3 linked regions of the Homo sapiens genome follow. The protein of the gene in region 2 purifies or fractionates together with the protein of the main gene of each other region. This does not show direct contact. Each region holds a gene or a part of one and is shown on either strand. Other genes may lie near its edges.

Region 1 (3,748 bases), on a different chromosome or scaffold from region 2:
ACAGTAAGAAATGCTTGCATGAAGCATTTTAGGCTGTGTTCTTATGATAAAATTCAACTTTCATGAAATAAATTAATCTGAATCAAGTTGTCCTCATCTGAAAATGCCTAGATTTATTAGTGCTAGCCCGGCTTTATTCCACAAACAATTCTATTTAAATTAGGTGTTGGTCTAACAAATCTGCCTGACCACAGCAATGACTCACGGACCATGTAGGAAACAACTTTCACTAAATTCAAGATTGCTCAAGTGAAAAGGTGCGCGGGGGAGGGGAGGAAGAGTTGGTTGTCCTCATCATTTTTATTTTTAAGTAATATTACAAGTTATCTATCCTGCCCCAACTGTTTCCTCAATTTGGTTGCTTTTCATTCCACTGTGGTTGGCATCTTTTGTCAAGGCAGTAATTTATTTCTTTTAATCCGGATATAATGGCCAAATGGGCGATCTGACTCACTCAAATCCCATCGTTAAAACTTATCTTGGAATTAAACAAAAATGGATTTTTAATCGTAGAGCTCATCAGCCTCATAGTCTCCACCTCATTTCTGAATGGCCTTGTTCGGCTTGCACCTTCTGTGCTTGCTGAACCAAAGCGCGCTGGTCGGCCGCGGCATCTCCGGAAGGGATGAAGAGCCTCCGCGCACACGCCCCTTACTTCCCTGTCCCGCACGCGCCACGAGCACGCTTGCAAAAGACGGGGAGGTGGCGGGGACAGAGACAGAGGAAATGAGAGAGAGAGAACGAAAGAGAAAGGAGAGAGAGGGAGAGAGAGAGGGAGAGAGAAGAGGGGAAGGAGAAGAGAGAAAAAAGAAAAAAAGGTCTGCTCTGGGATTATTATTATTATTTGGGTTAATACTCTTATCTTTGCATTCCAGCCGGAAGGTCGGCTCCAAGCCTTCTTTCCTGCCCTCCTCCTTCTTGAATTGGACACCATCCCTGTTGCCGCCTCCTGAGTCAGGAAAGGGATAGAACTTTCCCAGGGAGGTGAGGGGTGTCCCCGTGGCGATTTCCCGGTTACTTCCTCCCAGCAGATATCCCTGTGGAGAGGAAACGTTCCCGACTTCCCTCCCCGCGACCTCCTCCCTAGAAACGAGCGGAGACGTCAGGCTGCTTCTGGGTTTATTTTGTAAACCCAGACAGTCAACTGCACTTGGCGCAGGCAAAGCCTCCTTGGCCCTTGCCCCAAAGCAAAGCTCTAAGAGGTCCGGGGATTCCTTGGCCTGGGTGGGGAGAGAGACGTGACCTGTGCGGCCGCCGCGAAGTGGGTCTCCAAGGGTGAGACCCCTCCCTCGGTGGCTGGGCGTGTCCCCTTTAGCCTTCCTGGACCCCATTACCGCCCGGCTTGGAGCTGGACGAAGGGACGTAATTGGTAGGCGAGTGGGTTGGGCATCTTGACTCAAGGACCAGAGTCTGGGCCTCTGGTGTGGACCCCTGCCCCCTCCCCGCTCTGCGCGGCCGTTCTAGAGGTCCGGGTGGGAGCTGGAGGAGGAAAGCGGGAGGAGGCGGCGAGGCCGCGGGGCGGTATGAGGGGGCGCCGGCCGCCTCTCGGATTGGCTGCGCCGCCGCCCCCTCCGCATCGCGCGCCCCCCACCACGCGCCCAGCCTGCTCCCTCCCGCAGGCTCCGAGCTGCTGCCCGCAGGAGGCAGGACGCGCAGGGGTGGGACCGGCGCCCCAGCCCGTCTCCCGGCCCCGGGCGCGCGGGAACCCCGGGTCCTGCAGCCTCCCGAGTGCGGAGAGGCGGGGCCGCCCGCTGCCGCCCGGCTGCCTGCGCCCCCTCCCGCGGCCCCGGCTCTGGGAGCGGGGCGCCCCGCGCGCGGGCACACGGCGGCCAGAGCGCCGAGGCGGTACCTTCAGCCTGCAATGAGAGGAACCCGGGAGAGCCCCCGGGAGCCAGCGAAGAGCTTGGCTGCTGCGTCCAGGGCTGCTGCTGCCGCCGCGGCTGCTTGAAACTCCTCAAAGTTGAGAGCCGGCTAGAGGGTGCCGCCCGCCGGGAGCCGGAGGGAAAGGAAGTCGGAAGGTGCAAGAGTGACAGACACGGACAGACGGACGCGCAGACCTTCGGAAGGCACTGCGTAGGCAGCCTCCCCGGAGCCCACGAGGCTCCCCAGCACCGTGAGTTTTTTCCTGGATGGGTGGTTGCTAAGTATTTCCGTTTAATTGTTTGTAGCGTACGTTTGCGTATAGTTGTGTCTGTTGGAGGGAGTTTAAAACAACAACAACAACAACAACAACGCAGGATGCACCTTAGGAAAAAATTGAGTTTCTGATGGTGGGTGAGACGGTGGGTTGTATGGAGAGAATGTGACTGTACATTTTTATAAGCAGGACTAACCCAGGAAAGAGGAAAAAATACATTTAACAGTGAAGAGGCAACACAGAGCTCCCTATTGTGAAATAAAACCCATTTCAAAAGTTATTGGAAAGAAAGTAAGGTATGGCTCTTATGGGTTAACTAGTGGTAGTCAGTTTCTGCTTTTTACTCCCTCTGAATTATTAATTGTTTGCCAGGTTCACTGGTGGGAGGCTGAGCCGGTGGAAAAGACACCGGGAAGAGACTCAGAGGCGACCATAATGTCGTTACGTGTACACACTCTGCCCACCCTGCTTGGAGCCGTCGTCAGACCGGGCTGCAGGGAGCTGCTGTGTTTGCTGATGATCACAGTGACTGTGGGCCCTGGTGCCTCTGGGGTGTGCCCCACCGCTTGCATCTGTGCCACTGACATCGTCAGCTGCACCAACAAAAACCTGTCCAAGGTGCCTGGGAACCTTTTCAGACTGATTAAGAGACTGGACCTGAGTTATAACAGAATTGGGCTTCTGGATTCTGAGTGGATTCCAGTATCGTTTGCAAAGCTGAACACCCTAATTCTTCGTCATAACAACATCACCAGCATTTCCACGGGCAGTTTTTCCACAACTCCAAATTTGAAGTGTCTTGACTTATCGTCCAATAAGCTGAAGACGGTGAAAAATGCTGTATTCCAAGAGTTGAAGGTTCTGGAAGTGCTTCTGCTTTACAACAATCACATATCCTATCTCGATCCTTCAGCGTTTGGAGGGCTCTCCCAGTTGCAGAAACTCTACTTAAGTGGAAATTTTCTCACACAGTTTCCGATGGATTTGTATGTTGGAAGGTTCAAGCTGGCAGAACTGATGTTTTTAGATGTTTCTTATAACCGAATTCCTTCCATGCCAATGCACCACATAAATTTAGTGCCAGGAAAACAGCTGAGAGGCATCTACCTTCATGGAAACCCATTTGTCTGTGACTGTTCCCTGTACTCCTTGCTGGTCTTTTGGTATCGTAGGCACTTTAGCTCAGTGATGGATTTTAAGAACGATTACACCTGTCGCCTGTGGTCTGACTCCAGGCACTCGCGTCAGGTACTTCTGCTCCAGGATAGCTTTATGAATTGCTCTGACAGCATCATCAATGGTTCCTTTCGTGCGCTTGGCTTTATTCATGAGGCTCAGGTCGGGGAAAGACTGATGGTCCACTGTGACAGCAAGACAGGTAATGCAAATACGGATTTCATCTGGGTGGGTCCAGATAACAGACTGCTAGAGCCGGATAAAGAGATGGAAAACTTTTACGTGTTTCACAATGGAAGTCTGGTTATAGAAAGCCCTCGTTTTGAGGATGCTGGAGTGTATTCTTGTATCGCAATGAATAAGCAACGCCTGTTAAATGAAACTGTGGACGTCACAATAAATGTGAGCAATTTCACTGTAAGCAGATCCCATGCT
Region 2 (3,648 bases):
CTCACTCATTCATAAATTAAATATTAAAACAAATAATACATTACATGACCCAACAGACTCTCTGTGCCTCAGTTTCCTCATTTTAACAAAAGGAGAATAACAGTCCTACCCCACAGGATTTTGAAAGGATTCAGTTGGGGGTGATGCAAGCAGTGTACTGAGCCACCCCTGGCGCAAAATGCCCCAGTCTAGATGGCATGCATCACCAAGATGTCAGAAAGGGCCATGGGGTGCAGAAGTGAGAGGGCCCGGCACCTGTCCCCACCCCTCAACCCTGCCATGAGCCAGCAGCACTGGGGGTGAGGAGGCCCGGCCCCTACTCTGGTCTGTGAGTGCCCAGCCTCTGGGAGGTAGAGAGAACATTGGTCAGCAACTCAGGCCGGCTTTCCAGGGCCATGAGTGGCAGTGTGGGCTGACCCCTCCATGTAGGGCCTAGTTGGGCCTCAAGGGAGCAGCCGTCCCACCCAACCCAGGTCAGAGGGAGGTGGTGATATTGGTCTGAGCTGGAGGGAGCTCACAGGTGACATCCCAGGCAGAGTCGGGTCCTCGGCCCAAGCCTTCCAGGCTTGCTGGCAGGAGACGGCACAGTACCCAGGCCTCAAGACAAGCTCTGCGACCTCTGAGCCCAGCCGGGAGACAAACTGGGCCAAAAACCACCTGGCTGGCTGTCTCCTCTGAGAACCTGCAGAGAACCATGAATGGGCTGGGCTACCCAAGGGTGGTGGGCGGGGGTGCTCTCGCTCCATTTCTAGCCAGGGCAACTGACTCTGGGACCTTAACCTCCAAGCCCAAAGCCCACCTGCTAGGAAACAGTGGAGCTAGGATTCGAACCCAGGCCTGCCCCTCTCCAAGGCCCAGTGCAGATTAACTCTCTATCTGCATTTCCTGAGGTGCATTCTGCCCAAAAGCAGGAACATGAAAAGCTACATATGCGCAGCCACACACATCCACAGCCATTTCTGGTCACAGGTGGTGCTGAGCTCAACATTCTCCTCTTCCCCATTTAAAGATCCCCCATACACATTAGCAAATTAAAGGCTCTGACAAGTCCTGCAGGAAAGAAGCCTGCTGAATTAAACACAGCTGAACATTTCCCCATCCTTTTGTTAATGAGACTCTTTTTGCACTGAATCCCTAATGAACCTCCTTTGGGAAATGCTGACTTTGGAGTCTCTGAGACCCACCTAGGAACTCCTCCCCTAAGAAGGCTCCCTGGGTAGCTGTGGCCTGTAGAGCCCACTAGCCTCCCCTTAATTGACAGCCTATGAAGCTCTTTAATGCTGGGGGCCCCACTTACCCACCTCCACCTGACCCCAGGTTGGGCTAGCTGCGCACAAGAAGGTTGCAGGTGCTGGCGGGACCAGCCCATGCACCTGCCTGTGGGCCAGGACACCTACCCTGAGCTTAGCCTCCCAGGTGGAGGTGAGAGGAGAGGCCTGAGTGAAAGACCAGGGCTCTCAGGTGCTCACGGTCTCAACAGCACCCTCCCTAGGCAGTTTTCAGCTGGGAAGCACCTTGCCCTGGGGAAAAGCAAGCAGGAAAACAGCTCCAAGTGCCAACCCGGCAAAGGGCTCCTGTCGAATTTCCTGCCTCTCCCATGGAATGCAGAGGAGTGGCCCACCTGCCTCAGTTTCCCCATCTGCCACAGTGCAGGGAATAGAGCCCTGGGCTGAATGTCAGGTGATGTAAGGTACAGTCCCAGCTCTCCCTGTCACCAGCTGTGTGACTCGGGCAATTCTTCACCCTCTCTGGGCCTGACTCCTCCAGGGCAGGAAAGGCCTCCAGGGTCTCTGAGGGCCCTTCCCACTCAGACCAGCAGAGAAGCCAGTCACAGAGAGGTCAGTGGGAGAGGCCTCTCCCACCCAGAGCTCAGCGTGCCACCCATGGAGCTCAGTGAGGCGTCACTGCCTAGCCTGGCCTCCTGTCCCAACAGCAAGCCTGAAGCCACCACCTGGCCCGGAGGCCCCCAGTTTGGCCTCCATGACACCAGCTCGCAAAGTGCCCAGCCCCAAACCAAGGCGCTAAGACCCTCACTTCCCCGAGGCTTCCTGAGAACCCGATCCAGGCCTAGGGGGCACGAGAGACACAGAGGGGACTGCCTCGTGAAACCGCGCCAAGAGCCCGGAAGAGCCCTTCTGCAGGGGAAGCAGCCCCACCCAGCCTCCCCCACCAACCACAGCCCCAGCTTCCGGACCTGCACCCACACAGAAGAGCCCTCGCCATGGCTGTCCCTGGAGCCCAAGACCCCATTCCCGGTCACTCACTCCTTCCTTCCACAAACCCTGCCCTTACGGAGCTATTGGGCACAGGAGGTCACTGTGATGGAGTCTCACGCCACAGGAGCCCCGTGGCCCCCGAAACGAGGCCTCCCACACCTACCCAGGACCCCCCAAAACACCAAGCCCGATCTCTGCTCACCCCTTGGCCAAAAAACGCCTCTAGAGCTTCCCTGGCCTCCTCTGTGGCTGCGTGATTTGGCTGATTTCGGTTCCCCAAACAAGCCCCACCCTTTCATCTCCAGCTCCGGCAATCTAAAAACACGCCCACCTCCTCACCTCCAAATGCCTTCTGCCTGGCGAACTCCTGCCCGCCCTTCAGGGCCAACCTGAGCTGCCACCTCTTCCAGGAAGGCTGCCTGGTCCCCTCCCAGTCTGGCCTTGTTCCTTAGCTTCCCCAGGGCCTGCACCTCCCACAGAAGCACAGGCTACCCTGACCTGTCACTACCTGGCTGCACGTCCAGCCATGCACTACCCAGCTCCCAGGATCTAACCCTGCCTGGTACACAGGGACATCAAACCCCATACTCCACAGACTGGGGGGTACAGCCAGCACTGAACTGGCAGCTAAGGACTGGGCCCCAACCCTGGAATCCCCAGTCCCAACTGCATGAGCTCTGGCAGGTGACCTGCCTCTCAGGACTCAGTTTCTCACCTGAGCAATGGGGATGAAACCCTTCTCTTCGCTCCATGGCCTATTCTAGCAGTGACGTGACCTCATAGCTATAAAACCTCATAAACCCCCATTGCACATGGAAAGGGGCCCATCCTGCCACCAGGAAAGAGGCCACATGTTGGTGCCACCAGACCCCCATCTGCCAAGTGCCACTGAGCTCCTGCCTGCAGCAGGTGCAGGCACTGCTGCTGCTACAACACACAGGACAGGCATGGGTCCCCTGAGGAGCTCATGCCAGGAGGAGGGCAGATTGTCATAAATGAGCCAAGTGAGGAAAAGAAATGCCAGGGCAGGGCAGAAGGGGAAGGCAGGAAAGCATGGTGGTTGGGAGCACAAGCTCTGAGATCCAACAGCAGGCCGTGAATCTCAGCTCCACCTTGGAGGAGCTGTGTGACCTTGGGCATGTTCCTGAACCTCTCTGGGCCTCAGTTTCCTAACCCACAGAATGGACTGGTAACAATACCAGTTCTCAGGGGCTTCACGTAGATGTGGGCACACAGCAAGTACCATCACCCAGGGCCACCCCAGTCAGCTCCAGACACCAGGGTGAGCAGCCTGAGAAATCGTGACATAAACAGGCACTGGGGACACACTTCAGTACCAGGGTCTCAGCCTCACTTCCTGCCTGCCCCCAAAGGGCAGCTCTGCTCTTGTACCCATGCCCAGGAGAGCTGAGCCTGACAAAGGGATACAGAA
Region 3 (3,648 bases), on a different chromosome or scaffold from region 2:
CAGGAATGGTGGCAGGTGCCTATAGTCCCAGCTACTCAGGAGGCTCAGGCAGGAGGATGCCTTGAGCCCAGGAGATCAAGGCTGCAGTAAGCTGTGATCACAATACTGCACTCCAGCCTGGGTGACAGAGCAAGATCCTGCCTCAAATAAATAAATAAATAAAATTAAAAATATCCAGCAGAAAATGGTTAAAATTATTTGGAACAGTTTATTTATTTCTTATAAGACACATAGATGTTAGAAAGGAGGTTTAGAATCTCTTGTTAAAGGACACAAATATTGTGTTCATATCCCAGGTGCTGCCCTCAGCTACCACCTTCCTTTTTCTTGAAGAAAGAAGAAATACTCCCATTTTCACCACACTCCAATTGATGGGATTTATATAGCTTCATACACTTCTCTGTTTTCTGCTCTGACTTATTTTTCTTCTCTTCTAATCATTGATGTTGTTTAGCCCTTGAACCTCTTCTTAAGTTTAGCCCTTGAACCTCTTCTCTTCTTTTGAGAACTCAAATACTTCCAAGGCTTCCACTATCACTCCTAAACTGACAGATCTCAAATCCAAATTCCAGCTTCTTAAACCTCATCTCTACCTTCCTCCTGTCTATTTTCATCTTAGACCAAACACATCCACATCCACCTCATAACCTCTCTATTTCTGTGTGGGCTGCCTCCATTCTCTTTAGTCCCTTGGGTTTTAAAACTTGGCATCATTCTCAATTCATTCATTTTATTTAGCAAGTCAGTTCTACTGAGTCACCCAATTCTCCCTCCCCATTATCTCAATAGTACTCTTCTCTCACCACAGGCCAACCTCTTCAGCTTACACTTGGAGTACAGAAGCAGCCCCCACCTGCCTGCCCTCCTTTTCACTCAATCCAGTCAACCTCACATTCGCAGAATCATCTTTCACCTTTGGCCTGATCACTCCTCTGTTCAAAAATATCTGTTTCTCCTGTATTACAATATCAAGGCTAAACATGGATTTCAAGGTTCTCCATAATGTGTCCTTCTATCAAGCGTACACTTTTACTACTTCTCAATAACATAGTTTCTTTCTTTTGTGTTTGGAATTCCCTCTTCTGCACCGCCACATCTAAATTCTAGCCCTGCTTCAAGGTTCTTCCCAAATTTAAGGCTGGGTGCGGTGGCTCACGCCTGTAATCCCAGCACTTTGTGAGGCCGAGGGGGGCAGATCACCTGAGGGCAGGAGTTCGAAACCAGCCTGATCAATATGGTGAAACCCCGTCTCTACCAAAAATACAGAATTAGCCAGGCGTGGTGGTGGGTACCTGTAGTCCCAGCTACTTGGGAGGCTGAGGCAGGAGAATTGCTAGAACCCGGGAGGCGGAGATTGCAGTCAGCCGAGATCACGCCACTGCACTCCAGCTTGGGCGACAGAGCGAGACTCTGTCTCAAAATATAAAAAATAAAAAAAATAAATAAAATGAAATTTCTTCCCAGATTTTAACTTCTCCACCTAGATTTACATGCCTACATCTCACTCCCTTCTTCTCACCCACCTAGTGAGGTGCACTGAGACATTTAACACAATGATACGAAACTTACCATTTCATATGTGTTCATTTTCTTTCTTCAACTACATGGCAAGCTCCATACAAATAGCGATATAGTTTTCTATTGCCCTGCTATACAGCCCAGGGCTGAAAATAGTAATATATTTTTCAGAGTAAACAAGTTAATTAATCTACTACTTAAATATATTTTTATTTCCATTGATTATAGAGCCAGACACATAAATAATTGATCTACAATGAATAAAAGTGTAAACAAAGCAAATTAAGATTAGCATTTAATTTTAAATATTATACATCAGTTGTATAACTATTACACGTAAAAACCATTTCTTACCTGATTTTATGCAGTCTGATGACTTGCAAATACCATCTAGAAAAAGGAGAGAATATACATAAATATTGGCAACACAAATTTTTAAATTTCTATTTTTCTTTTGTTCTTTTAAAAACTGCCAATTAAATAAGCAATTTCTTAAAGCAAGAACTAAAAACTGAACATTATATATCATTGTCAGTGGTTAGAAAAAATATAAGAAAATAAAATAAGTAAAATCTAAATTTAAAATTTTGATTATGAAGAAAAATGTGTTATTATATCTTCTCTACCAACGAAGCCCCAGGCCTATTAAATTGAAATAATCAGTTGTTTTTGCTTGGTAATCATTTTTTTAACCATTAAACAATCAATCTTTTTTCATCCTTGTTGTAAAAAACTTCCAAGACTCAAATTAAATTTGTTAAATTCCTGTGAAGCCGTTTAGAATTTCAATGACACAACAAAAGTTGACTAATGACTATTACTAAAGCTGGCCATAAAATTGTGTATATTTTAATCAAATAAAACCATACTTTAGATTCCTCATAAGTAAGCGTGAGCGCACTAAATATACTTGCAATTAATAACTTAGCTCAAACATAAAAGGCACCGTACTTCAAAGTTAATTATTTTGACATATTGATGTTACATTTTATAAATGAATCTCTTTGTCAGTCTTTAAGTGCCTCTATCCTTAACACATTCGTTGGATAGATGGTAAAAGCATGGAGGAAGATTTCCTTCTCTTTTGCACTTATGGATGCACAGGTGTGGGAGTAACTCACCATCGTAGGTTGCATAGAGTGCGATCATTGTCACAGCTATGATGGTGAGGAGCAGGACAAGGACCGAGAGGCTGATCTCCAGTGGAGTCCATCGCTGTTTCTTCTTTGGCTTTGGAGTGTTGATATCAGTTATATCCATCTGACTTTCTGACTTGCCCATCACCTAAAATCTGCAAAAAATGAAAATACTAATAATGAAAAACAAATAAATAAAAAAGAAAATGTCCAAATGCTTAATGTGGCTGGATAAAAGTAAAAGGCTCAGTTATTTTAAAATAGAAATACATTTTTGCTGTTGAGAAGTCAAAATTTTGTTGCTGAATGCAAAGTATATAGAGCCAAATGAATTTGACAGGTCTCAGTCACAACCTTTTGTTTTTTGTTGCTGTTGTTTTGTTTTGTTTTGCTTTGGTATATCACTGAAAATCTCAGCAAAATTAGACAGTAAGACTTGGTTAAATACTCAAGTAGGATTAATTCAGCAGTTTATAAGCAAATAATTGCTGTACCATCATTAAGAAAGTTTTAAACTCACCCTTTTGAACTCTGGACTAACATCAATGGTTAATTTTATATCTTGCTCCAGTGGCTTCCTTTATAAGCTCAAAAACCAGTGACTAATACCTTGAGGTTTTGACTAAGCAATAATTTGAAATATTAATATAGATAAACAGCAAAACGAATGAACACATGAAGTAGTTTATTTTAGTCATAAAAACAACCTTTATTTTTACAGTTCAAAATTACTACTACTACTGATACCAGTATCTATTAACTGGTTAGACAACATTCTGAAAATGGTCACTCACTGTACCAAAAGATACCTGAATATCCAACCTAACCACGCCCAATCCCATTTAAGAGGGGAGTAAGGGGGATAAGTAAACAAAATAGTACAAAAAGTTACCAAGTTGATACTTGTAGTCCTGTATAAAGCAGGGTATGCAAAAACATACCTGTATTCCTAAAATCTTTCACCTCAACTGGAGATGTGTTAAAAACTTTAAAC

What was found.
Region 1: the proteins of ADCY7 (region 2) and AMIGO2 fractionate together in Homo sapiens (co-fractionation; one large-scale study listed by BioGRID). This does not show direct contact.
Region 3: the proteins of ADCY7 (region 2) and MME fractionate together in Homo sapiens (co-fractionation; one large-scale study listed by BioGRID). This does not show direct contact.

Annotation. Positions count from the first base shown.
Region 1 is NC_000012.12:47,077,827-47,081,574, reverse strand, and holds the start of AMIGO2 (amphoterin-induced protein 2 precursor), read left to right. Parts: upstream 1-1,615; 5' UTR 1,616-2,113; exon of another isoform or gene 2,114-2,326; 5' UTR 2,327-2,433; intron 2,434-2,509; 5' UTR 2,510-2,572; coding exon 2,573-3,748. UniProt on the Homo sapiens protein: Required for depolarization-dependent survival of cultured cerebellar granule neurons. May mediate homophilic as well as heterophilic cell-cell interaction with AMIGO1 or AMIGO3. May contribute to signal transduction through its intracellular domain.
Region 2 is NC_000016.10:50,272,969-50,276,616, reverse strand, and holds part of ADCY7 (adenylate cyclase type 7), read right to left. Parts: intron 2,487-3,648; exon of another isoform or gene 2,419-2,486; intron 1-2,418. UniProt on the Homo sapiens protein: Catalyzes the formation of cAMP in response to activation of G protein-coupled receptors.
Region 3 is NC_000003.12:155,083,319-155,086,966, reverse strand, and holds part of MME (neprilysin), read right to left. Parts: exon of another isoform or gene 2,925-3,648; intron 2,810-2,924; 5' UTR 2,800-2,809; coding exon 2,640-2,799; intron 1,909-2,639; coding exon 1,873-1,908; intron 1-1,872. UniProt on the Homo sapiens protein: Thermolysin-like specificity, but is almost confined on acting on polypeptides of up to 30 amino acids. Biologically important in the destruction of opioid peptides such as Met- and Leu-enkephalins by cleavage of a Gly-Phe bond.